7 linked regions of the Homo sapiens genome follow. The protein of the gene in region 5 purifies or fractionates together with the protein of the main gene of each other region. This does not show direct contact. Each region holds a gene or a part of one and is shown on either strand. Other genes may lie near its edges. The genes, in order: RADX, MICALL1, BLTP3B, MOCS1, RAB8B, MICALL2 and ZNF280C.

Region 1 (3,981 bases), on a different chromosome or scaffold from region 5:
AACAGAATGAAAGAAAATAATTTGCAGTATATAGCAGACAAAATTTTAATACCCATTAGCAAAGGAATCCTATAAATTAATTAGAAAAATGTCAAAAGATGTATTTAAAAATAGTAAGATATGGGGAAATGGGCATTCTCATATGTATGTTGGTAAATGTAAATTAGTACAACCTTTTCAGAAGATGATCTGTCTATATCCACAAAATTAAAAAAATTAAATACCTTTTAAGCCAGCAATTTCGCCAGAGGAAGCCGTTCAACAGCAATGCTTGAACATAGTAAACAAAAATATGTGTACATTCTAATGATGCTTATCATTGTATGTAATACTAAAACACTAATAAGTGCCTAAAACTACAAATTACCTATTCACATGGGCATGATTATAGAAATTATGGCACACCCATGCTATGGAATATTGTATGTACAGATGTACATGAAAGATGCCTGAGATGTGTTCAGTGGAAATAGCAAATCACACAATGCGACATTAATTCCTTTTTTTTAAAAAAATACACAACAAACTGCTGACAATTTGAGATTTTTAGAAGAAAGGTGAAGGCACTAGGGAAGGTGAAAGAGGTCTTTCACTTCTCCCTAATATTTTATTATTAACAATTTGAAACATATAGCAAAACTGAATAAATTTTACAGTGAACATCAATATGCCCACTTCCTAGATTTTATCACTAACATTTTACTATACTTTGGTGGTATATTTCTAACACAATATACTTTCAAATATACAGATTGGGTTTTATTTTGGCATACAGACATTGCCTTTTGTATTATAAATATGGTTTTAATGAATGAATAGATATTACGACAAAATACATTTTACAAAGTATTAATCCCCTCAACTTTTCTTGTAGGGCACCAGTTTTTCATTTACATATTCAATTCTAAAAATTAAAGTGATCAACATTTAGAGTAGTAATGCACTACTGCCTTATTTCACACTTGAGATAAAATCACTCCATTTTTTCATCCCTGAAATAGCTATCTTGCTTTTTAAAATTTAGTTATTTAAAATATCCTTACCTACACATTTCTATAACATCTTTTTTCCTTACAACTGGATGTGACTATAATTGCATGGTTTTTGAGCTAGTTATTCTTTTACTTTCAAGTTTGTTGCTCTTACACGTCACAGTAAGATTATCCGTGATTTAGCATTGTGACAACATTGTAAAAGGGACTGAAAAGCAGTAATGTAGAAAATTATAGTCTTTCTCCTTCCAGTACTTTCTCTTATTTTATTTTTTGCATTTTATTTCTTTCCCCATTTCAAACGTGTTCATGCCTACAGTACTATCATTCCCCTTAATTTCATCTGTTAGAGAAAAAAAACGTATTTTAGAGCAGTTGCTGATGGCAAGCTAGTGTTTTCAAGCTAACTTCCTACTTCTGATACAGAAAAATTGAAGTTCCCAGATCAGTACTCTTTGTGGTGAGTAATAAGAAACAAGAAAATGAGAATGTCAAGCCTTCCCATAAAAATCACACCGTTAAAAGGTGATATTTACATAACTGTTACACGGCGTTTCAATCAATGTAAAGTATTAAGGAATACATCACGGAGCATCCTTTTTGAATGAAGATTAAAACATGCAAACCCGCAAATTTTTACAACCTTTATGCTAAATTCAAATCTATAAGCTCTTCAACCGACACAACGTACTATTTCCACAACTGGATTGGGAATAAAACTAAGATTAATTCCACCACAATCAAACATGTAACGAACGTATGAGGAATACTGACTCCCACATCAGTACGTTTGCCAGACTGAATTTTAAGATGTAGTCAAACACACTTCCTGAATTGGCCACTTTTGCAATCAAAGAAACAAACAAACAAAAAACACCAACAAAAACCACTGGCTGTGCAAATTTCATTGAGCATCCCTTGGTCATTTAAGAAAACTTGTCTACCTACCACTCCTGGCTTGTAATTAACAATACAAAAGCATTTTCATTTCCTTTCCCGTTCACGCAAGCTCCTGAAAACTATTTTTTTTAAAACCCTCTGCCGTTCTTTCCAAACACTTACCGCTAAAGTTGTGTTCCTCAGGTTGCTTGTCTGTTAACCAGATATCTCCATAGGGATCTTCGTTATTCCACAGCGCCAGGTAATGACTCTTCCCGCCTCTTAAAGGCCTCTCTGGTTTCTCCTGGTGCGCTCTATTTCTGAAGGGAGTTTCTAAAGAAATACTGTCTGAAGTCTCCCCACAGTGGACGTTATCTATGCACAGGATCCCCTGGCCTATCCTTTTCTCATTGTAAAGACATGAGACCCTGGAAATTCTCATTTGAATGCCAACTTTAAGAATATTTTGATATACGAGAGAGTTCAAGCTGGGGTCCAGGTAGCACTTCTCCTGGTACACCCCATCTGAGATCGTCACATCATAGCAATAAAGGGGAGGCTTGGGCACCGTGTCGCGTGGCTCATCCTCTAACAGGTACCTCTGGACGGCCAGCACAGTTACAGGCACCACCTCCGAGGGGGTGACACACTGGCGAGGTGAGTCCATAATCTGCTCAAGAACCTTTTGGATCCAGGACCTGGGCCCTTGGGAACCAGCTCTTCGGATCACCCCTCCCGGGACCCCAGCCCGATTCCTCTCAGGGTTCGGCCAATCTAGCCCTGCATGTGAGGGACCAGCCTCAGGCTGTCCTGACTCACCAGACATTGTTGGATAACTGCGTACCCGCTTCACTCCCAAAAGCTAGTTTGCCCCGTCCAAAGCGGAGAGAAATAAAACCGCGCGCTTTGGCGACGATCGCTACTCTGCCCCTGCTGACAGGCAAGACTCCGCCCCGTAGCGAGGCTGCAAAGACTTTACGCGTGCGCGCGCCAGCTCTCCCACCCCGCCCCTCGCTCCGAGCGCTTCCGACTCGAGACACTGTTACTAGGCAGTCACACGCGCGAGTTACGTAGCAGGTCGTCCGACCTTGTGCCCGCCGGGTTGCCGTCTGGGGGAGGGATGACAGGGGAAGGGGAGGGGGAATCGGTGGTTGTCATGGTTCTCAAAGAGGGAGGGGGAGAGCGCTTGTGGTCCCCTGGAAAGGAGGATGCCTAGAGGCAAGGGAAAAGAGAAAGTGGCAAGAATCAGGGTGCAGAGTCAAAGCTCAGGGATTTGGGGGTTTGGGCTTTGGGCCAGGAACAGAAAGTAATTTAGAGTTGGTTAACATATGTTAATGTTATAACATGGGTTTCCTGTAGTATGAACAAAACCAGATAATTTATGCAGAGCCTCCAGGACAGACTCTAGCACAAAAAGTCCTCAGTAAACATTAGCTGCTATTGCGATTAGCATTAGCATAATTATCTGTAGTGGCTCCCTGAGTGTAGGGTGGGTGAATTAGTGTTTAAGTGCAAATGAAAATAGAAAACTAGAACTGGCTTGTAAAGGGCTGCCTTTAGATTAGACTTCTTAAAATGCAGCTAGTTTTAATATAATACCTGGCCTAATATACATCTAGGGTAGAGATTTCAGAAACTTTGTTTAATGTTTGTTTGTTTAATGCAAGGCATATATCAGGAACGAATGTAAAGTGAAAAAGCTGATAAGAATAGTAAAAATTAAGGATAAAATATTTAATAGATGTACTTAGATCCAGTATACATAGAAGGGAGTAATTGTTCTAAGAATACTTTTTAAGATGGTTATGAGCTGATTTTGTTTATACTAATTTCCTTTGGCTCTCTATTTTATCATTCTTTATTCACTATTTATGAAGTCTCTATATGAGGTAGGCACTGTTTTAGGCCACTGGGGATAACTGTAGTCAGGGTCCTTCCCTCAAGTTTCTTCTCATTGCTTGGGCTAAAGAGCCCTGCCGTTATTAATACTTAACTAATTTACTCATTCTATACAGATTTCTTGAGTGTCTGGTCTGGGCAGGGTATAGCCTTGCTAGGGAGACCAAAAAACATAGTAAGGGGAAATAAAGTGGAGGGAACAGGAGTTAAT
Region 2 (3,500 bases), on a different chromosome or scaffold from region 5:
CCTGGGGTGACAGTGGGACAGGGGTTCCCCACAAGCAAGTGCACCCGGGGTTCTGCCCCCTCCCTCTAACACACCCAGAGGGGCCAGCAGAGCCAAGCAGCCCAAAGCCCCTGAGCCCCTCAAAGGTTTTCAGCCTTTTCTCAGCCCCAAAACTTCAGACCAATATTCACGCAGCCCAGGACACGAAACACGAGAATCCGAAGGTGACCCACCCCCGTGCCCTCCACCACCAAGGAACCAGGGGGTCTTTCGAGCACTCAGGACACTTGGTGCCGCCAGCCCCTCACCATCTGTGGGAGCCCGAGGCCCAGAGGAGGATGGGGCCTGCTCAAGGACACACAGCAGGTGGGAGGCAGAGCCAGAATCAATGCCCAAGAGGCTCTTGCCGGGACCAGGGAAGGTTCAACGATGCCTGAGGCACATGGGCAGGGTCAGGCTACAACTTCAGCTGCCCCACAAAGGCTGTCCTGCCACCCTCTACCTGGGGCCAGATGAGCCTTGGGAGCTCAGAGGCCTGCAGAGCGTTGGGCCATCCAAAGGCGCTGTGGCTGCAAGACAGGGCCCTCATGAACTGGGTGCCCAGAGGAAAGTACTGAGCCCAGGCAATCCCCAGGTTCTCAGTATGGGGCTGAGAAACAGGTGAGCCCACAGCACACAGCATACCTGGAACAGGAGCAGCCTGGATGGGTGCCCAGCCAGAACCTCCCCACGCCCATGTCACCTGAGAAAAGACAGAGCCCAGCAAGGGAGCAGGAGGACAGGATAGGGCCACGTCTGCTCTCCTCGGTAAACACCCCTCATGGCACACAACAGAAGCACCCAAGAAAGCTGTGTGTCCTGGGTCCTTCTGCCTGTTGAGGGCTGACCCCCTGCCCACTACAAACTCCACACACAGCAGCATGTACATTATAGCACCTCCCCCTGACCTGGCTGGGAGCGCCTTGGGGACAGGGACCACTATGTCCACATGACCTGTGGAGCCCAGGCAGCCATGCACATGGGAGGCATTCAGAGACCCCAGCTCCCCTGTTCCATGGCGGGGAGACCCAGGTCTCTGCAGAAGGGAGTGAATCCCTCCCCTCTGTGCTCTACTCTAGGTCACCTTCCAAAATGCCCATTATGCCTATCTCCCTGAGCAGATCGTGAGCCCCTGGAGGCCAAAGACAGGGTCTTTTTTTTTTCTGAGACAGAGTCTCATTCTGTTGCCCAGGCTGTGGGCCATCTCAGCTCACTACAACCTCCACCTCCCAGGTTCAAGCAATTCTCCTACCTCAGCCTCCCAAGTAGCCAGGATTACAGGTGCCTGCCACCACACCTGGCTAATTTTTGTATTTTTAGTAGAGATGGGGTTTCACCATGTTGGCCAGGCTGGTCTCAAACTCCTATCCTCAAGTGACCTGCCTGCCTCAGCCTCCAAAGTGCTGGGATTACAGGTGTGAGCCACCACGCCCAGCCAGGATAGGGTTTTAATACAACTCTGCCCAGGGTCTGGCATCAGTAGAGCCTGAGTGAATGGAAGAGCGGACAGACAATACGGGATGACTGGTGGCTGGTGAGTGGAACCCAAATAGGCAAGTGGAGGGGATGGGAGGCAAACAGGGGCCCTGATACATAAGACCTGGGAGGCTATGTTTGTGGACAGGTGGATAGATAGGTGGGAGCTCTGGCAGATGGATGGAAGCATGGACAGACGGGTTTGTGCCTCATTGGACAGAGTGGGTAATGGGTAGATAGACTGGCCAAGGCCACTCAGGAAGTCAGAGGCCAGTAAAGATAGAAAAGGCCCTAGACAGCCGGGGGCAGTGGCTCACGCCTGTAATTGCAGCACTTTGGGAGGCCAAGGCGGGTGGATCGTGAGGTCAGGAGATCGAGACCATCTTGGCTAACACGGTGAAACCCCGTCTCTACTAAAAATACAAAAAATTAGCTGGGCATGGTGGCGGGCGCCTGTAGTCCCAGCTACTCGGGAGACTGAGACAGAAGAATGGTGTGAACCTGGGAGGCGGAGCTTGCAGAGAGCCGAGATCACACCACTGCACTCCAGGCTGGGTGATAGAGCGAGACTCCGTCTCAAAAAAAAATAAAAAAGAAGGCCAAGCATGGTGGTTCATGCCTGTAATCCCAGCACTTTGGGAGGCTGAGGCAGGCGGATCACGAGGTCAGGAGATCGAGACCATCCTGGCTAACGGGGTGAAAACCCCACTCTACTAAAAATACAAAAAATTAGCCGGGCGTGGTGGTGGGCGCCTGTAGTACCAGCTACTTGGGGGCTCAGGCAGGAGAATGGCGTGAACCCAGGAGGCAGAGCTTGCAGTGAGCCAAGATCGCGCCACTGCACTCCAGCCTGGGTGACAGAGAGAGACTCCATCTCAAAAAAATTAAGAAAAGGCCCTGGACATTTCTGCCCTGAGACCAGACCCGCATCCACTAGAGAGGATGTCACTTTTAGTGAGGGTGAGGGGGCACTCACCTTTACCTGCAGCTGTGGGGACGAGCTTCCAGGGGAAGGCACCGGGCTCCTGTCTCCAACCAACAAGAGAGGCGTTGGGGTGGCGCCACTGCAGGGCTTGGCTGGCTGGGGACCTGAGCTGCCCCTGGTCCTGGGGGCAAGGCCAGGGCTGGCTTGAGGCATTTGTTCCACTCTAGGCTCCACTAGTTCCCCAGAGGAGGCCAGGGAGGAGTTGGTAGAGAGGCTGACAGGGTTTCCAGGGGTACCAGGGGCATGGACAGCAGGCTCTGAGGAGCTCTTGGGCACAGCTGGCGGCTCCAGAAGCTCTGCACCTGCAGTCTGGCTGGCGCTCTCAGACGACAGGCTCTCCACGCTGAGCGCTGGCGATGGTGTGGCCGAGGGCGGCTCCGAGTGCGAGAGGCGGGAGGCGTGGAGAGCTGTGCGGACGAGCACCAGGACACCTCACAAGGGGAGCACCACAAGGGCTTCCAGCCCCACCTCCCGGCTCCACTCTCAACAGAGCCGCAGGCAGCCCCAGAAACCCAAGCCCTCCACATCGAGACAGGGCCAAGGCCCAGGGAACAGCAAACGCCCGGCAGGACGGAAGTCATGAGGTGCATCCAGCCACCCGAGTCCAACCCGCCCGCCTTGCGTTCTGCCTGCTGCCTCCACTTCCCCACACTCCCCATAGCCCCCATGAGGGCACCCACAGCAAAACCACCTTGGGAATGCCAGAGGAAGAGAGGTGGCCCCTCCTCTGCCCCTGATCTGCAGTGCGGAGGCAGAGGGGAGGAGCACGCAGCCCTCGCAGCCACCAGCTCTGGGACAGGCACTGCCGGGCACCAATTTATCTCCTCGTGGCTGATGGATATGATGCTTCCAAACACATTATCTGCATTTTCCAGATGAGGCAACAGGCTTAGAGAGGAGAGGGCACTCGCCCCAGCACGGGGTGGGACTGAATCCACTGTATCTGACTCCAGAGCTCATGCTCCTCTGCTGTCCCCTGAAGCTGCCCACCACTTCCACCCAGACAGGCCAGCCTCAGCTG
Region 3 (3,500 bases), on a different chromosome or scaffold from region 5:
GAGGTGGAGGTTACAGTGAGCTGAGATTGTGCCACTATTCTCCAGCCTGAGCAACAGAGTAAACTCTGTCTCAAAAATAAATAAATAGGCCGGGCGTGGTGGCTCACATCTGTAATCCCAGCACTTTCAGAGGCCAAGGCAGGCAGATCACGAGGTCAGGAGATGGAGACCATCCTGGCTAACACGGTGAAACCCTGTCTCTACAAAAATAAAAAAATTTAGCTGGGGGTGGTGGTGGGTGCCTGTAGTCCCAGCTACTCGGGAGGCTGAGGCAGGAGAATGGCATGAACCCGGGAGGCGGAGCTTGCAGTGAGCCGAGATCACACCACTGCACTCCAGCCTGGGTAACAGAGTGAGACTGTGTCTCAAAAAAATAAATAAATAAATAAACAAATAAAACCTGTCTTTTAAAATAAATTACCCAGCCCCATAATCTTTTATAGCAACATAAAATGGCCTGAGACATCCCCCAACTTTCAAGAAATGCTGAGTCAAAACATTATGTTCCTCTAACTTCAAAGGACCGCAGAGTCAAATGATTCTCAAGTCATAAAAGAATCTCCTAAGGGATACTACAGCAGGATGGTAAAACAAGAGTAGTGTTGAAAACTGGGTAAAAAGAAAAGCAAACTGTTGAGGTGGGGTGGGGGCGAGTAGGAAACACCTTAATAGGCAGCACAGAAAAATCAATGAAAAGGGTACTGGATCAGTGACTTTACCATTCAACACTATCTGTGAGACCTTGGACAAGTCACAAATGTCAATGTTTTAATAATTTCCTTCTCTGAGATAGGAACAAATCCCTTCTGATTCCAGGATTCTAGTATGCTAATATTGCAACATCTCCTAGACCAAGCACCCAACAAGAATCAGTATCCGGTTTTAGTTGGAAATTAATATGAAAGAGAAAGACACCTGCTATATACAGTAGTCCTCCCTTACCCAAGATTTCCCTTTCCACGGTCTCAGTTACCTGTGGTACAGTACGATAGCTTGAGAAAGAGAGAGATCACATTCATATAACTTTTATTACAATATACAGATATTGTTACAATTTTTCTATTACATATTAGTTTTTGTTAATCTCTGACCATGACTAATTTATAAATTAAACTTTACCAGAGGGATGTACATAAAGAAAAAAACACAATATACATATCGTTCAGTACTATCTGCAGTTTCAGGCATCCACTGGGGGTCTTGAAGTGTGCTGCCCATGGAGGAGGACTACTGTAGTGCATGTACTTAAAAGGATAAAAAAAAACAACAATAGCAAAAAATCCACCCCTGAAAATTCAACTCACAATTCGCTTCCCAGTAATTGTTTATTGCATAAGCCAAAGGATAACCACAAACATACTTCCATTGTTGTCAGACTAAAACATGTATAGTCTAAATTAGATCACAAATAAAAGAGAAGACATCTCCAATTAAATATCTAACATTTGGGCTGGGCGCAGTGGCTCAGGCCTGTAATCCCAAGCACTTTGGGAAGCTGAGGCAGGTGGATCACTTGAGGTCAGGAGTTTGAGACCAGCCTGGCCAACATGATAAAACCTCATCTCTACTAAAAATAAAAAATGTAAAAAAAAATTAGCCAAACATGGTGGCGGCTGCCTGTAATTCCAGCCACTCGGGAGGCTGAGGCAGGAGAATCACTTGAACCCAGAAGGCAGGGGTTGCAGTGAGCTGAGATTGTGCCACTGCACTCCAGCCTGGGCAACAGAACGAGACTCTGTCTCAAAAAAAAAAAAAAATCGAACTTTCATCCAACTTAACATATCCAAAACAAACTCCTGATCTTCTCCCATAAGCCTGCTCCTCCTGCAGTCTTCTCCAATTTTCCGATTTAGTTAATAGCAATTCCACCTTTTCCATTGCTTATGTTGCTTATGTCAAAAACTCTGGATGGTCACCCATTACTGCTCTCCTCTCTTCTCTATCAATCCACATCTTACCTGTCGGTCAATCCTGCCTTTACCTTCAAAATACACCTAGAACCTGACTATCACTATCTCAACAACTCCACTGCATCTGCCTTCGTTCAATCCAATTTCTCTCTCACCTAAATAGTTAACATCTCTTAATTGGGTTCCTGTTTCTGCCCTTGTGCTTCTATTATTTAATTCCCACATGGCTGCCAGAGTGATCCTTGGCTCAAGGCATTCCAGTGGCTTCCAATCTCAGAGTAAAAGTCAAAGTCACTACAAGGTCCCACATGATCTGGCCCTTGTTTTCTCTTTGATCGCATCTTCCTCTTCTCACTTTACTCTCTCCACCTATATTGGTGGTCTTCGTATGTTTTCAAAATATCAAACAAGTTCCCAGTTCTGGACCCTTTGCATTTGTTCCCACTATCTCTCTCAGGTCTCTTCTCAAATATTGCTTTCTTTTTTTTCTTTCTTTCTTTTTTTTTTGAGACAGGGTCTCACTCTGCAGGCTGGAGTGTAGTGGTGCTATCACAGTTCACTGCAACCTCTGCCTCCTGGGCTCAAGCAATTCTCCCATCTCAGCCTCTCTAGTAGCTGAGACTACAGGTGCGCACCACCACGCTCGGCCAATTTTGGTATTTTTAGTACAGACAGGATTTCACCATGTTGGCCAGGCTGGTCTCAAACTCCTGGCCTGAAGTGATCTGCCCGCCTCAGCCTCCCAAAGTGCTGGGATTACAGGTGAGACACCACACCCGGCCTCAAATATTGCTTTGTCAATTAAGCCTTCCCAATCACCAGATTTAAAATTGCAAACTCCATCCCCAATTTATTGTACTTCTCATCCCCTTTCCCTATGTTACTTTTTCAGTAGCATTTAACACACTGATATACTGTACTTACACAGTATTTCACCTATTTATGTACTTACTATCTGTTTCTGATTAAAACGTAAACTCCACGAGGGCAGGGATCTTTGCCTAGTGTGTTAACTGCTACATCCCCAGCAGTATGGTACAATATTTGGTACAAGGCAGGCACTCATTAAATTATTTTAAATAAGCAACTAGTACATACAGTGTCAAAATCCACATTATTAGAGATTATTTAAAAGTGAATACTGTCAGCCAGGCACGGTGGCTCATGCCTGTAATCCCAGCACTTTGGGAGGCCAAAGTGGGTGGATCACAAGGTCAGGAGTTCGAGAACAGCCTGGCCAACATGGTGAAACCCCGTCTCTACTAAAAATACAAAAATTAGCTGGGTGTGGTGGTGCATGTCTGTAATCCCAGCTACTCAGGAGGCTAGGGCAGGAGTATTGCTTGAACCCAGGAGGCAGAGGTTGCAGTGAGCTGAGATTGCTCCATTGTACTCCAGCCTGGGCAACATAGCGAGACTCTGTCTCAAAAAAAAAAAAAAACACCTCAAACCTACTCAAGTAAATTTATAATCCAAAAAACAATATTTAAATCAGTTTTTTTCCTAGTTGCAAAATCTAACAAATTTCATATAGCAATAAAATTTTTTTTATTTTTTTCTTCCTTTTTCACATCACCCGCAATGCCAGAC
Region 4 (3,500 bases), on a different chromosome or scaffold from region 5:
GCTGAGGGCTGCTGGGCATGACAACTTAAGGTCAAACTTCACTCAATGCTTCTCAGCTTCTGTAAGAGGGATGGATGAGACAGCCCCAGAAATCAATATACCTACCATCCTTCCACCAAAACTTATGAAGCATCTACTCTGTGCCAGCTCTGCACAAGGCACTGTGGCCACAGAGAAAGAAGAATGTCTGAGAAGCTTCTGCAGGCAGAGACCACTGGAGAAGATACCAGTGAAATCTAGGATAGGTCTAACTGCTTCAGCGTGCCTGTTATTCCTCATGCCTCGCTCCCCAACCAGCCTCCAGGTTCCCTTCTCTGCAACAAAGAGGTTCCTCCTGTGGACTTCACCTGGTACCACCCTCCCCTCCCGCCCCCCAGCTGGCTCCTGCCTGGGAGATCAATGGGTAAAGGGAAAGAACAATCTTCAGGCATTTCTCCCCTACTTCCTCCCTGCTTTGATGTATCTGGCAGCAGCTGCTTCTCTGCACAGCTCAAGTGCCAATGAGGTGGCCTCTCTTCTAAGGCTCCAGCCCTTCCTGGGCCCCAGTGACATCAGTGCCTCCCCCTTGCCCTTCCTAAGTGGGAACAGCACTTTGCTGCTGCTGGTCCCAAGTACCTCAATATCCTTTATTGGTTCCCTTAATCTTATATGTTATAAATAGCTTCTTCATTACATTCTCTTCAGAATCCCACCTTCCATTTCCTGCCAAGACCTCACAGATACAGATACCACCTCTAGTCCAAGTCAATTCCGTATCTCCAGCCCAGAAAAACCCCCAAGCTTTTCAGCAACCTGCTGGATGGTTCCTTTTGGATTCAAACTGCATGCATCTAAACCCAACCCACCATCATCACCCTCCCACAATTGTAAAAGATCCCAAGGCCTTCCAGCTACCTTGATGCCTTCCTCCTCTCCTTCCGCGAACATTACCAAGCTCTCTGAGTCTTCCTTCCCTTCAATTCACACTCTAACATATTTGGAGAACCACTGAATGGCCACCTAATTGGTCTTCCTGCCATCACACCCAGCCTGTGGCTTATAAAACATACATGGGGGATGTCTCCCCTGTTCAGGAACCTTACGCAGCACACTATTGTCCACAGAACACATTCTGAACCAAAGCCCCCTACAATGTAGTCTTCCCATAGCTGACTTTAATCTGCCCTAGCCCGCCCAACCAGTATGAACCCTATGTATGCACCCTCCCCTCCCCACTTCTGCCCCACCCATTCTTCAAGGCTCGCTGAGGTCTGTAGTGCTCTTGATGCCCTGCACTCTCACAGGCTATCTAGCCACGCGTGTGGCAAGGACTCTCGTGCTGCCACACATTGCCTCTGTTTGGTCTTGCCTGTGAGTCTGCATAGCCCTGACGAGAAGGGGTCCCGACATCCCCCACAGGGACGAATGCACAGGACATGCTTGTTAGATATGAGTAACATCCATTTCTGGTTTCAGAGCTGAGCCCCTGGCCTGGTGGAAGGGGCTAACCATGGCGGGGGCCAGGCAAAATGCACATTGATCCTGCAGCTCCATGAGAGCTGGAAAGGAGCTCCCAATAAACCAGAAGCTACTTCAGGGCCCCACAGAAGGAAGGAAGGAATCAGGGTGACATTTCCAGAGGGGCCATGAGTTCACCCTCACCTGCTGCTCCCATCATGCCCCCAAACCTGACATTATTGCACCAACCACCTCCCCCGACACCGTGCCCTGCCAGCCTCCTCTCCAATCAGGGAGCACAGGTGGGAGGAGACATGAGAACACAGAGGTGGCAAGGGGTCCCTGTGGAGGAGGGGATGCTCACCTTGAGGTTCCCATCAGCTGTGATTCGCAGGCGGTTGCAGGTCCCACAGAAATGCTCAGACATGGATGTGATGAAGCTGATCTGGCCTTGGAAGCCAGGGATTTTAAAGGCCTGGGCAGGGGAGAGTGGGAGCAAAAGGGCAGTGGAGGGGATGGGCTACTGAGCCCAGTTTCTCACTCCATGACATCAGAACCTCCACTCCTCAACCCTCTCCCAGAGGACCCCACGTGAAGCTCCACCCAAGGCCCTCAGGTGATAGAAGACTCTGGTAGGATGGATGACCCATGGGTTGACCTATGCCTGGCTTGCCCTAGATAAAAGCTGCTAAGGCAGGGACCTGTGGGCAGCATGTTTAGAAAAGTCTGCGTGGAAGCGGGATGAGCACCCCTCTCTGCCACTTCCTGGAGTGTGTCCTCTGACATGTTACTGAGCCCCCCACCCTAGCCGAGCCCACATCTTCATCCATGAAACAGGGAGGTGGTTGTGATAGCACTGATGCTTCCTGCTTAAATGGTACCATCCCACATCACAGCATCCCCACCACAGTGCAGCTCCCTGCTAGCTCTCCATCCTAGGGTGGAGGTACGACCTTCCTCCAGGCCTGCCCCACACCCTCCTGCTCCCTAACCTTGGCTGTGCTGGATTCCTCCTCTGGCACCTTCTCCAGCTCTGGCCACTGCTGCCGGACAGTGTCTAGCATCTCCTTATAGCTGACCATCTTCTTGAAGTTCCACTTGTTGCCTGTATTCGGGATGGGGGAAGGCAAGGGGAGCTTCTGAATCACAGTTGAAGGGGCCCCGGGGTCTTTGAGTCCATCCCCTGCCACAGCATAGCAATCAGTTCTCCAGCCTCTTGGAAGGGAGGGACGGGGGCTCTGCCTAAAACTGGTGGATTGAATCACATCCACAGCGGGCTCCGAGAAGCCACCAACAGCCCATCATAATCCTAGACTCACTGCCCCTGAGGTCAGCCATACCCAGTGGGTGAGCCACACTATGCGACCTGCAGGCCCAACCCCTTCTTCCCTCCCTCAACCCATCCCTGGTCACTGACCATCAAAGGGCATATACTCTATGAAGCGCACATCCAGGGGGAGGCCCTCAGTCAAGGCCGCAAAGTCCAGGAGTTCATCCTCGTTAAGGCCTCGCATCACCACACAGTTCACCTGGCCGGGGAACAATGGGACCATGAGGGCTGTGCCCCCTGCATTCTTTTGTGGAGATGACCCTTGGGGGCCTGGCACTCACTGAGGCCTTCCACTCAGGGACCCATTCCTTGCTTCTCCCACTCAGTTCTCTAAGTTACGGGATTCCTTGGGGTCACTGATTTTCTCGTTTCTCTCAAGGGTCGGCAGGGCTGGACCAGCAGGGAGAGAAGAGGTGGAAGGGTGCACGTACTTCAGCCATGCTGGCCAGAGCTGAGGGCTCTCAAGTGGGCCAAGGGGCGGTGAGGGGAAGGCCAGGGCAGTGTGGAGGGAAGTCGGGAATCTACGGCAGGGGCACGGCCTCACCTTCACAGGGTTGTAGCCCAGCTCGATGGCCTTGTGGATGCCCTCCATGACCTTGTGGAAGCCTGGGAGGGAGAAACAAGGATCCAGGAACTTCTGTCCTCTCTCCTCTTCCCCCACACCCCCACAGAAAAGCACCAGAGCCCATCTAGTCTGGAGATTGGCAAACGTTTTCTAAAACAGGCCAGAGTA
Region 5 (3,976 bases):
CTTCAGATCACCTGGGAATGAGGTGAGGGGCATGGAGGGAGTGGCTGCTAGAGATGTCAACACTCAAAATCTATACTTGTAATCAGTGAAGAGTCTGTGGAACCAGAATGGTGCTAACATTCACCTTATTTTCCCAGCTTAATTTTGACTGCAGAGCATTAGGTTTCTATATAATTCTGCAGTTTGAAGGCAGTGTGTATATAAATTCTGCAGTTTGAAGGCAGTGTGCTACCACTTCCTGTTGGAGCTCTGGGGCTAAATAAGAGGTATGGGATTTCCCCTCCTCCACGTCAACTGAAGACACAGCTCACACCTCTTTTTACCACATCCACCTCACAGAAAATATAAAGACCAAGATGTCACATGAGATTCACCTCCTTTTCATGTTCACTTCCTATTCTAATCTGTTTCAGGACACTGGTTTTCATGCCTTCATAGCTGTCACCCTCCAAAGAACCTCATTTCCATCATTTTTTGAAATCCACTGATAGACTTGAACCCTTCAAAATGAAAAGTAATTTTTAAAAGCTACTATTTTAAAAGGAACCAGATACCCTTACAGGAAACATGGGACAAAAATTAAGGGAAAAAGAGAAAACGAATAAAACTATTACAAACAAGCAAGTCGTCCAAGAAGCTTAACAAAAACAGCATCAGCGAGATTCACTTACTTTCAAGGCAGGAGATACTTCTGGGAGGCTCAAATACAGAATGGACAAAAGGACACCCACTCAACTTGTTAGAAATTATCCTTTACCATCTGTACTGCAGTATGCATTCAACAATGAAAAATTGTTATTTGAGGCTTTGAAATTAATACAAATGTCAAAAATTAACACCCTTTAGTTGCTGTACCAGCAGCTACCACCAAATCTTAGGAATATACTTGAGAGATGACATTTAAAATCTGCTTTTTCAGAAAAGAAAAAGTCCCACTCAAGACTGACTGCCAAGAACTTGCAATTCAAACTTCCCTAAGCCCAGACATCATAACACCCAGGAGATTTTAGACCATTCAATCTATATGAAAGAATCCAGAATGAGCAAACAAACCATAGCCTTTACTAATACTTAAAGAGTGTTCTATACCAAATACTCTTTTTTTAAAAAAAGATAAATTATCCTTAAAAATACACAAATATTTAAACACACGTATTACCAAAGCACTAGCTCTCTATTATTTCCCAACCCAGAAATTCATGGTGAAATATGCTGTAAGAACCATACGAAAGATGACTAAATAAGCCACTATTAGAGGCCAGAAACATCACCAACACAACCAAAAGCTGAGGTATTCTTAAGGTACTTAATTAACCTGCAACTATTTAACAGGAGAAATGATGTTAAGGTGGTCACTTCTAAAACAGCTTAAAACCAGCTTTGACTTGGTCTTCAGTTTATGATAAGTTAAGAGATCTTATTACCTGAACACAGTGTCTTCCAGTACAAAAGTAGAAAGGACAGCTCCCAGCCAGGATCAGAAAAACTCTTGATTCAATTGGAAGTAACTGAGAGGTATATCACATGTTGTGATTCACTTAACAATAATTAGAACCAAAGCAAAATATACAGGGAGGCAGGTAGAATGTAAGTTCATTTCCTTGGCTGAGAAGCTGTTAAACATTCAAACCGAAGGATTTAAAATACTGAGAAGTCTTGCTTCTCAGGAGATGGTAGTAAAGAGGTGAACCATATTTTCCTGACCACATCATTTCCAAAAGTCACCAATTCCCTTAACATCCATTAACACTCACAGAACAAATTAACGCTCTATAGACATTATTCCATCATTAGTCACATTTTGCTTTCTCCTGCACTTGATCCAAAGGAAGTGAAGAGAAAATGGTAATCAGTTACTATAGCAAGTCTTGCGCCCCACTACTTTCCATTTCCTCTCTTTTCCATCTCCTCTGTCTTCTCTGCTCAACCTCCCTTTACTATGATGTTGCTTCCTCTTTTCCTTTCTGTCTCACACCCAGATCCCTTTACTTTCTCCATCAAGTATCCTCATTCTGCCCTCTGATCCCTTGAACTCTTCTTCCACCTACAATTTTCTTCTGTCCCCTCCTACGACATCTCAGTCCAGACCTCCTGTGGCCAGCCGTCCCCTTCTTCCTCACCTCCTGACCGCTCATTCCCCTGAATTCCCTTCCAGTTGCCTGGTTCTCACCTCTCTGTCCCTTGTGTCCTCTGTCCCTTTACTTCACATCCCTCTCATTGCCCCCATCCCTCATTTCCCCCTTCACATTTCCTTCCTCTCCTGTCTTTTAATCATTGGCACGTCCACTATCCCCTTCTCTCTACATGAGATTTCCTGAGTCTTCCCCCCAACACATTTTGTCCCTCAAAGACCCCTCCCTGTCAGTCTCCGAACCCTCTCGTTCCCCCAATACCCCTAGTCCTTGTTCCTCTGTTCCCCTTCCCGTTCCTTTGCCCCCAAGTTCCCCCTTCGCCCTTAGCCTCACGTTCCCGCTCGCCTCTCTCCCTCACGCCCTCGCCCCTCTCCCTCACGCCCTCGCCCCTCTCAGTGCCCCCGCCACCTTGCAGTCCCCGGGGTCTCCTCTCCCGGGCTCCCAAGCGCCCCCCGCCCTTTCCCCGTCCCCTAGTACCCGCCCCCCAATTCTCTACCCGGTCCCGGGCCGCGGCCCCTCCCTCACCGATGGTGGAGATGAAGGTGGTGTTGAAGGCGTCCTCTGAGAAGCGGAACAGGAGGCAGGTCTTGCCTACCCCCGAGTCGCCGATCAGCAGGAGCTTGAAGAGATAATCGTACGTCTTCGCCATCTTCTCGCTCCGGCCCTCTGACCGGGGAGCCAGAGGAGGCGGTGGAGAGAGGCGGGGAGGGGGCCGCGGGCGAGGGGGCGTGCCCGCCAATCCGCCGCTGCTCGCCCCGCCCCACGCCCCGCCCCTCCTCTCGGAGAAGGCCTGCGCGCCCCGCCCCGTGCGGCCAATCGGCGAGGGCTTCGTCATCACCGCCCGCGCCCCGGGACTTCATGGGACTTGTAGTTCCTCCGGGGAGCCTCGGGCGTGCCCCGCGAGGACTGTCCAGGCGGCTCCAGCGGATAAAAGACCTGCTATGGGCGGGGTGACAGGGTGGAGGCGTTTCCACCCGAGCTGGGAAGGGAGGCCCCGTTTCGTACTCTGCTGGTCGAGCCGCGGGAACTTAACTTTGTTATTTCTTTGTGTGCAGACGCCTTCCAAATCCAGGACCTCAGAATCAGAGCCCCGTAGTTCCCGCATCTCTTCCGCCGAGACCTGGAGCAGAGATGCTTTCTTTCCTTGGCGCTGCTGTGGCGCAGCCTACGGGTTATCTGCAGAGGGCATTATCCAGCTTCTCCCCGAGGCCATGCCCAGCACCACTATAACCCCCTCCCGCAGCCCCTCAGTCACAGAGCTGAGAAAGAATGGTTACCATGCTAACTCGAACCTCACTCGTGCCCCCTTCTTCACGCCACACAGACCAGAGCCAAATACAATGAGTATTTAGAGAATCTGCTACGCTGATCGCTCCCCTCTCCTCGCAGGAGGATGGATTTTTAAATCTGGGAAGTCTTGTGCTACAGGTCTGTGCCCCATGAAACTGCAAGCATCCTGTGAGGCGGGCCACGGGAATTTAGAGAGTAAGATTTGAATTTAGTCTTGGCTCTGCTGCAAAACCGCTGTGACAAGTCACACAGGCACTGGACATTTCAGTTTTCTCATCTGTAAAATGGATATGAAACAAGATACTTCATAGGGTTCCAGTGAAACTTAAATACTAAATGTGAAAGTTCTTTGAAACCCATAAGGCACTGTTAGCAGTGATGGTAATATTCATTACTCTTCAGTAGGCTCTCACTTAATTGATGACGAATATAGGGAGGAAACAGCATTCTGTTATACTCAAGTTAATCCTTTATTATTTATTGTCTTAGGCTAATTCTCTGTTTTGTGGATGTATTGTTCAGTCCCCTTTCATTTGCTAGTGGCAGAAACCCAA
Region 6 (3,500 bases), on a different chromosome or scaffold from region 5:
GCCCGATGCACCCGCCAGGCCCTCCCCAGATGCACCTTGCTGTCCCCGAGCTCACACCCCCGGGGCCCCTGAGCAGCTGAGCTCAGGGGCCCGATGCTGGCAGAAATCGCCGCCAGAACCGTCTCGCAAGCCCCACCAACATCGCCAGGTGGAGACCCCACTCGTGTCTCCAGGAGCCCCCCAAGAAAATGACACATTGGAGCCCTAACCTCCAATTCCACCACGTGACCTTATTTGGAGACAGGGTCTTTCTGGAGGTGAGAATTCATTTTGCCTCCTTTGGAGATAAGAGAATTCAAACAGGGTTCTTTGCGGGGAGCCCTGGTCCCATGGCTGGTGTCCTCATAAAAGGGAAATGTGGATGCAGATACAAACTGACAGGGGAAGAGGATGTGAAGGCACAGGGCGAAGACGGCCACCCCAGAGCCAAGGAGAGAGGCCGGGAAGATCCTCCCTCCTGCCCCCAGGAGGGCCCAGCCCTGCTCACACCTCCGTCCGGGACGTTGGCCTGCAGAACTGCGGGAGGACACTTTCCGTTGTTGAAACCGCCCGTTTGGGGGACCTTGCAAGGGCAGCTTGAGCAGGTGGACACCCCTGTCCTTGCCGGACAAAAATGCATCAGCTTCCCCCCACTCAGCAAGTGACCAGCTACCCATGGTGAGACGGCTGGAACTGGGACACAGCCCCAGCCACCGCTGCAAACCTGCAGGCTGTGGGATGGGGGCTGCAGGTTGCCCACCTCCGAGACATGGCATCCTCCAGGGTTTAATCTTCTCTTATTTGAAGCCTCAGAATTAAAATCAGGTATACCATGGCCCGGCTCCAAGACACACACCGTGGGCCAGGCACACAGTCGGTGCCCTATAAATGCGTGTGATGCATTTGTTCTGTGCTTGGTGAGATTTCTGTGGCAGTAACTTATTCTTTCAACACTGGCTGAAGGAATGAATTTGCCGTCTGTGTGTCGGTCACAAGATTTGCCCTGGCCAACTCTCCACCGTGCGTGCCCCTGCCCGGCCACACCTGCCCCCACCACCCCTCTAACTGACCCACGACCATCAACTTCAGCCCATGGAGTCCAGCCGGCCTCTGCCCCGGCGCCTCTGGGGGCTCTTGGGAATGTATACCCCCCTCCAAATTCCTGGGTGGCCGACATCACACTGTTTACTTCCTGGAACAAGATTCCGCCATGGAGTGGGGAGGGCGGGGGGGTGCAGGACTTGGAAGGGAAGGAGCCCCAGCCGAGGCACATCCAGCACATCAGGAGAGAATCCCACGGAGAAGGGAGCAGAGGGAGTGGGGAGAGGCAGGTGGACGGACAGAGAGAGCTGGAGAGAGAGAGGAAGACCCCAGCGGAGATGGTGGAGGGAGGCCCAAGAGAGACAGGGACCAGATGGCACAGTCGGGATGGCAGAGAGGGGACTCGGGGAAGGAGCAAACCTCAGAGACAGCGAGGACATGGCCAGGCAGAGCTCAGGAGAGGAGGGGGTGGGCAGGGGGCGGTGACGACTGGGGAGGGGAGGCCGCAGAGCCCCCACCTTGCACACTGGGCCTCTGGAAGGAAAGTGTGGGGCCCTGGGCAGTCCCCCTGCAGTAGGTGGACAGGCAGCCCCCTCCCGCGCCCGTCCTGGAGGGTTCCGGCCAGAGGCGGCCACAGAGGTCTGGCTACAGGCCCTGGGGCAGGAACAGAAGGCCTCTGTCCACAAGCAGCTTCCTGCTGACCCAACCCCGCGTGGGAGAGGAGGTCAGCCCACCCTCGGCCCTGGCCCAGGAAGTGAGGGCACTGCCTGGGAGCTTCTGGGTGGGGGCCTCTGCGTGAGTCTCTCCCCTGGCCCCCAACAATAGTGGTGTCTCGGGGAGCCCCGCCACCCTTGGGAGCCACTGCTGGAGGGCTCCATGCACTGCACAGCGGCCGCCCCAGCCACCCCCACTTCCTGGCCCAGCCCTGAGCCCGCCTCCAGAGCTGCAGGGACCAGGAAAACTTAAGGGACCCTGCCTTGGAACTGAGGGTGCAGCAGAGACCCAACTTCACGACACCCTCCCAAGGCCTGGCCACAAATCCGACAAATGCCCCCAGCCACGAACCCCAAGAAGGAGGCCGCAATGTTCTCCCACCTGCTGGACGGCTTCCTGCGCCACGCACAACGCCTGCCCTCCCTCCAGCCCTGCTCCCTCCCAGCCCAGACACGCTGTGCCCCCTGCCCCATCTGCCCGAGGGCTGTGCCTGGAGACCTGCTTGGGCCCAGGAATGAAAGGAGCCAGCCCATGGCAGAGCTGCTCCAGCCCCGACAGGCTGACTGGCTGAGGGAGGTGAGGCGGGAGGTGGGGCTGTTTGTTCTGGGTGGTTTCTGAGCTCACCTGGCTGCCCAGCTGCCCTGTGACACCAGTATGGAAACAGCGCCCGGGGGCAGGCGCCCTGAGGCCTGGCTGCAGAGAACCCACAGCCGCAGGTGAGACAGGGCAGGCGGGCACAGGCAGGCTGACCAGGCAGGGGACCCGCCCACCCTGCCACCTCCTGGTGGGCGTGGCTGGGCGATCCTGTTTCCTGGCCGTAAAGCGGAGATTCACGGACACCTCTCTGTACCTGTGGGGCTCCCCAGTGTGGTCACACGTGGCTCAAGGAGCCGGAACATGGTACACAGGAATGTCCGGATCCCCGCCCCCTCCACCCGGGGTCGGTGGGGCAGAGGCAGAACCAGGAGCCCGGGTGCCCCACCTGGCTGGCCTGGCGCCCGAGCTGGTTCCTTCACAGCTGCTCTCCCTGAGGGCCAAGCGGAAGTGCTCTCTGCGTGCAGCAGGAAGGACTAAGGCCAGACAAAGGGAAGGACTTCCTGGTGGCAGAGCTACAGACAGGGAGACAGGACGTCCACCCTTCTGCTGTCAAGGGGTCTTCACTGGAAGGAGAGGGGAATGAGGTGGCAAGGGCGGGGCCTCACACAGAGTCTGACCTCAGAGCTGCCCTGAGAGGACAACCGGTCTGTGCCTGTCCCTCACACGCGTTTCCTCCCTTCCTGAAGACTACTGGGGACAGGAGGGACAGCCAAGGGCTGCATGAGGAGACCTCCACCCCAGCCACCACCTCATCCAGAGGTACGGCAGGGAGCAGAGGCTGAGGGCACGGGATGGGGGTGATGAAGGCACAGAGGCAGGCACGTCCAAAGAGCCAGGGGCCAGGCGCGGCGGCTCACATCTGTAATCCCAGCGCTTCGGGAGGCTGAGGCAGGAGGATTACTTGAGGCCAGGAGTTCAAGACCAGCCTGGGCAATATAGCCAGAACCCATCTCAATTTAAAAAAGAAACAATATGCTGAGTGAAAGTAGCCAGACACAGGCCAGACGCAGTGGCTCGCGCCCATAACCCCAGAACTTTGGGAGGCTGAAGAGGGCAGATGGATCACTTGAGGTCAGGAGTTACACACCAGCCTGGCCAACATGGCAAAACCCCGTCTCTAGAAAAAATATGAAAATCGGCTGGGTGTGGGGGTGCACCCCTTTAACCCC
Region 7 (3,500 bases), on a different chromosome or scaffold from region 5:
GCCAGACTCCGTCTCAAAAAAAAAAAAAAAAAAAAAAACTAAAGAAGTCAATCCAAGGTATGCACTGGTTTCCTATAGAGGTGAAATATTTAAGTTTAAAGTATCTGATGAACTTCAAAAGTATATGTATGCTTTGTTAATAAACTGATAATTACAGGATTTTAAAACCTTCACATTTCTTTTCTAATTTTATCCTCATTTGACTAAGATACTAGATTGCAGAATCCACACACTGTACCTTTTTTGTTTACTGTTATATCTACAATACCTAGTAGTACAGTGTGGGTGAAGAAGGTTGTCAGCAAATGAATATTTATATATTTCAGTGAATGAATATTATATCCTTGCTTTGTAAGTAATAACTTGCACACATTACTTAAGTTGTTAAGGGAGACTTGGCTTTGAGTCTCTTGATGCCTAGCTTTCAGCAACAAGTTGAGAGGTGACAATTTATAAAGCACTAAATGTTAGCGTAATTTGAATATGGCGATGCCATTTTCTTTTCCTTTTTTTTTTTTTTTTTTAACATAGTCTCGCAGCTGGAGTGCAGTGGCACAATCTTGGCTCACTGCAACCTCCGCCTCCTGGGTTCAAGCAATTCTCCTGTCTCAGCCTCCCAAGTAGCTGAGAGTAGCTGGGGCTACAGACTCACGCCATGATGCCTGACTAATTTTTGTATTTTTAGTAGAGACGAGGTTTCACCATATTGGTCAGGCTGGTCTCGAACTCCTGACCCCAGGTGATCCATCCACCTCTGCCTCCCAAAGTGCTGGGATTACAGGCATGAGCCACCGTGCCTGGCCAGCGATGCCATTTTCTAGAGAACTATTTTAAATATATCAAGTTTATATAACAAAATTGGAAAATGACGGTTGTGGAGACTAAAATGCAAATCAAGTTAGTACATGGAAAAGTAATTATTGAGCTCATATGGATTTTCATAAATGATAAGAATATTTCTTACTGTCTTCTTTTTTTTCATAGGGGCATTACTCTAGTGTGCCTTAAATGTGATTTCCTAGCTGATTCTTCCGGCTTAGATCGTATGGCTAAACACTTAAGTCAACGTAAAACTCATACTTGCCAAGTTATAATAGAGAATGGTACGTATATATAATTGTGTTTCTTTGATTTTCTGATATTTATTTCAGTACTTTTGATCGGACACCATATGGACCCATGTATTAAATTGATAGTCTCACTCTTCATATATGCTATTGTAAATGTAAAACTCTTTTGATTTCAGTTTCCAAAAGTACCTCAACTTCTGAACCCACTACTGGGTAAGTTTAATTTTCCTTCAGTGCATTTTGCTTTGATGGACTTTAGCACTGTTGTATTTTTTAATGAATCATTAATATTAATATAAATGAAAAATATTAAAGTTTTTTTTTTTTTTTCTTAAAGCTGCTCATTGAAATAGATTCCTGCTCCATGGAGTTCATGCAACCTGGTGCAAGACAAGTTGGAAGTTCCTAAGTTCAAAGTTCTGAAGTATTTTCTCACACAAAGGGCAGTTAAACAGCCAAGTTTATGACACTAGCTCTCATTATTCAGCTCTTTTCAGCTTTCAGATGCCACTACATTGTTATTCCACCTTATCTTTGCGTCAGGTTAACATATCTTAACATATTTTTTTCTCCAGTTGGCTCTCTCCAAAAATGCCTTTTGTTTTTCTCTGCTATACTTGACTTGCCTTCAGAATATTACATTCCAGATAATATGACTGTTCATCTTTTTCTGTCTGTTTTGTCTGCTTTCTTAATTTCTTATAAGTCTTACATGTTTAGGTCAGATAACCATTTTTTCTTCATTCCTTGTTCATTACTGTTCTATTTTTCATATTTTTCAAATGAAGAAGCAACACATAAGTTTCAAAAAATATCCAGGGTACTCCTGGACAGTGTCCCCTTTTGATGGACACAACTGATACCTGTTCTTTCTTTCCAAGAAATGTGAATTATTTGACTGTGAGACGTCCTCTAGTTTGTGGCCTTCAGAAATCAGATCTTGGGGAGAGTCCCTTCCTACCTGACTGACCTCCCATAAGGCTGATGCTGATTTGGCCAGAGATGACCTCAAGGCCCACCAAATAGAGCACAACTTCCCATTGGGAGCTTTGGCTTTTGATCTTAAGCTTATGGGTCGATTCTAACCAAGAAAAGTCCATGAGATCAGTGCTTCAACATCCAGGTTGACGTTTAACCATTTTGGCTGCTGCTCTTTAATTTTCCTCTAGCAGGCATGCAGTCCAAGGAATATCAAAATTCTGATTGTATGGGAACCAAGGTTACTTTCTTGTTCTTGGATAAAGAAAATTTCTACAATTACAGTTCCCAAAGACACAGTTGTTCATGTTATTTAAAGTTTTATCCAGTATTCTAGGAATTTTCAGCAATACTAATATTCTCATTTTTAAACATTTTTTACATTTTATTTTGTTTTATTTTGGTAGCTTGGTTTTATATTGTTTTTAGATCAGTGCTTCAACATCCAGGCTGACGTTTAGCCATTTTGGCTGCTGTTCTTTAATCTTCCTCTAGCAGGCATGCAGTCCAAGGAATATCAAAATTCTGGTTGTATTGGGAACCAAGGTTACTTTCTTGTTTTTGGAAAAACAAAATTTCTACAATTACAGTTCCCAAAGTCAGTTATTCATGTTTTCATTTAAAGTTTTATCCAATATTCTAGGAATTTTCAGCAATACTGATATTCACTTTATTTTTTTTCTTTTTTTAAGACAGAGTCTTGCTCTGTCACCCAGGCTGGAGTGCAGTGGCGCGATCTTGGCTCACTGCAAGCTCCGCCTCCTGGGTTCACGCCATTCTCCTGCCTCAGTCTCCCAAGTACCTGGGATGACAGGCGCCTGCCACCACGCCCGGCTAATTTTTAATTTTTTGTATTTTTAGTAGAGACAGGGTTTCACCATGTTAGCCAGGATGGTCTCGATCTCCTGACGTCGTGATCAGTCCGCCTCGTCCTCCCAAAGTGCTGGGATTACAGGTGTGAGCCACTGCACCCGACCGATACTCACATTTTTAAACTTTTTTTTTAATTTTATTTTGGTAGCTAGGTTTTATATTGTTCTTAAATTTATTTTACTCTATTTTATTTTTCCATCACTTCTTTGTCCCAGATTCATGAAATTTGCTGATGTCCATTTTATGTCTACTTTTGAACTCTTCTCTTTGTGTTTGTTTTGTTCTTATTACAAACTCCAAGACATTTCTTAGAATTGTCTACAGATTTCGTGTAGCTACTTATTGGTAGCTTCTTAATTTCATACTTGTCCAGACCATTAGACATTATTACATGCTCTGTCTTGGGCCTATCATTAACATTAGCTTAGGGATTCTGATTTCAAAGACATAAAGAATTGGCAAAACTCTTCTTACAGAACTTAAAACAAGTTTTAAAGTTACATTTCTATACATCTAATACATAATACCTTCTTAGCCATTAATGTAATTCCTCTGGATAAAGATAATATATTCAAAAAA

Evidence for each region.
Region 1: the proteins of RAB8B (region 5) and RADX purify together in Homo sapiens (affinity purification with mass spectrometry; one large-scale study listed by BioGRID and IntAct). This does not show direct contact.
Region 2: the proteins of RAB8B (region 5) and MICALL1 purify together in Homo sapiens (affinity purification with mass spectrometry; 2 studies listed by BioGRID and IntAct, with this or other methods). This does not show direct contact.
Region 3: the proteins of RAB8B (region 5) and BLTP3B purify together in Homo sapiens (affinity purification with mass spectrometry; 2 studies listed by BioGRID and IntAct, with this or other methods). This does not show direct contact.
Region 4: the proteins of RAB8B (region 5) and MOCS1 purify together in Homo sapiens (affinity purification with mass spectrometry; 2 studies listed by BioGRID and IntAct, with this or other methods). This does not show direct contact.
Region 6: the proteins of RAB8B (region 5) and MICALL2 purify together in Homo sapiens (affinity purification with mass spectrometry; 2 studies listed by BioGRID and IntAct, with this or other methods). This does not show direct contact.
Region 7: the proteins of RAB8B (region 5) and ZNF280C purify together in Homo sapiens (affinity purification with mass spectrometry; one large-scale study listed by BioGRID and IntAct). This does not show direct contact.

The regions. Positions count from the first base shown.
Region 1 is NC_000023.11:106,610,797-106,614,777, reverse strand, and holds the start of RADX (RPA-related protein RADX), read right to left. Parts: upstream 2,801-3,981; 5' UTR 2,698-2,800; coding exon 2,055-2,697; intron 1-2,054.
Region 2 is NC_000022.11:37,926,797-37,930,296, reverse strand, and holds part of MICALL1 (MICAL-like protein 1), read right to left. Parts: exon of another isoform or gene 3,358-3,500; intron 3,342-3,357; coding exon of another isoform or gene 3,171-3,341; intron 2,887-3,170; coding exon 2,471-2,886; intron 1-2,470. UniProt on the Homo sapiens protein: Lipid-binding protein with higher affinity for phosphatidic acid, a lipid enriched in recycling endosome membranes. On endosome membranes, acts as a downstream effector of Rab proteins recruiting cytosolic proteins to regulate membrane tubulation.
Region 3 is NC_000012.12:100,132,875-100,136,374, forward strand, and holds part of BLTP3B (bridge-like lipid transfer protein family member 3B), read right to left. Parts: intron 1-3,500. UniProt on the Homo sapiens protein: Tube-forming lipid transport protein which mediates the transfer of lipids between membranes at organelle contact sites. Required for retrograde traffic of vesicle clusters in the early endocytic pathway to the Golgi complex.
Region 4 is NC_000006.12:39,910,463-39,913,962, forward strand, and holds part of MOCS1 (molybdenum cofactor biosynthesis protein 1), read right to left. Parts: intron 3,374-3,500; coding exon 3,312-3,373; intron 2,967-3,311; coding exon 2,855-2,966; intron 2,543-2,854; coding exon 2,430-2,542; intron 1,913-2,429; coding exon 1,802-1,912; intron 1-1,801. UniProt on the Homo sapiens protein: Isoform MOCS1A and isoform MOCS1B probably form a complex that catalyzes the conversion of 5'-GTP to cyclic pyranopterin monophosphate (cPMP).
Region 5 is NC_000015.10:63,188,430-63,192,405, reverse strand, and holds the start of RAB8B (ras-related protein Rab-8B), read right to left. Parts: upstream 2,801-3,976; 5' UTR 2,782-2,800; coding exon 2,658-2,781; intron 1-2,657. UniProt on the Homo sapiens protein: The small GTPases Rab are key regulators of intracellular membrane trafficking, from the formation of transport vesicles to their fusion with membranes.
Region 6 is NC_000007.14:1,452,971-1,456,470, forward strand, and holds part of MICALL2 (MICAL-like protein 2), read right to left. Parts: intron 2,458-3,500; exon of another isoform or gene 2,359-2,457; intron 1-2,358. UniProt on the Homo sapiens protein: Effector of small Rab GTPases which is involved in junctional complexes assembly through the regulation of cell adhesion molecules transport to the plasma membrane and actin cytoskeleton reorganization.
Region 7 is NC_000023.11:130,202,900-130,206,399, reverse strand, and holds part of ZNF280C (zinc finger protein 280C), read left to right. Parts: intron 1-984; coding exon 985-1,103; intron 1,104-1,246; coding exon 1,247-1,283; intron 1,284-1,407; coding exon 1,408-1,423; 3' UTR 1,424-3,500. UniProt on the Homo sapiens protein: May function as a transcription factor.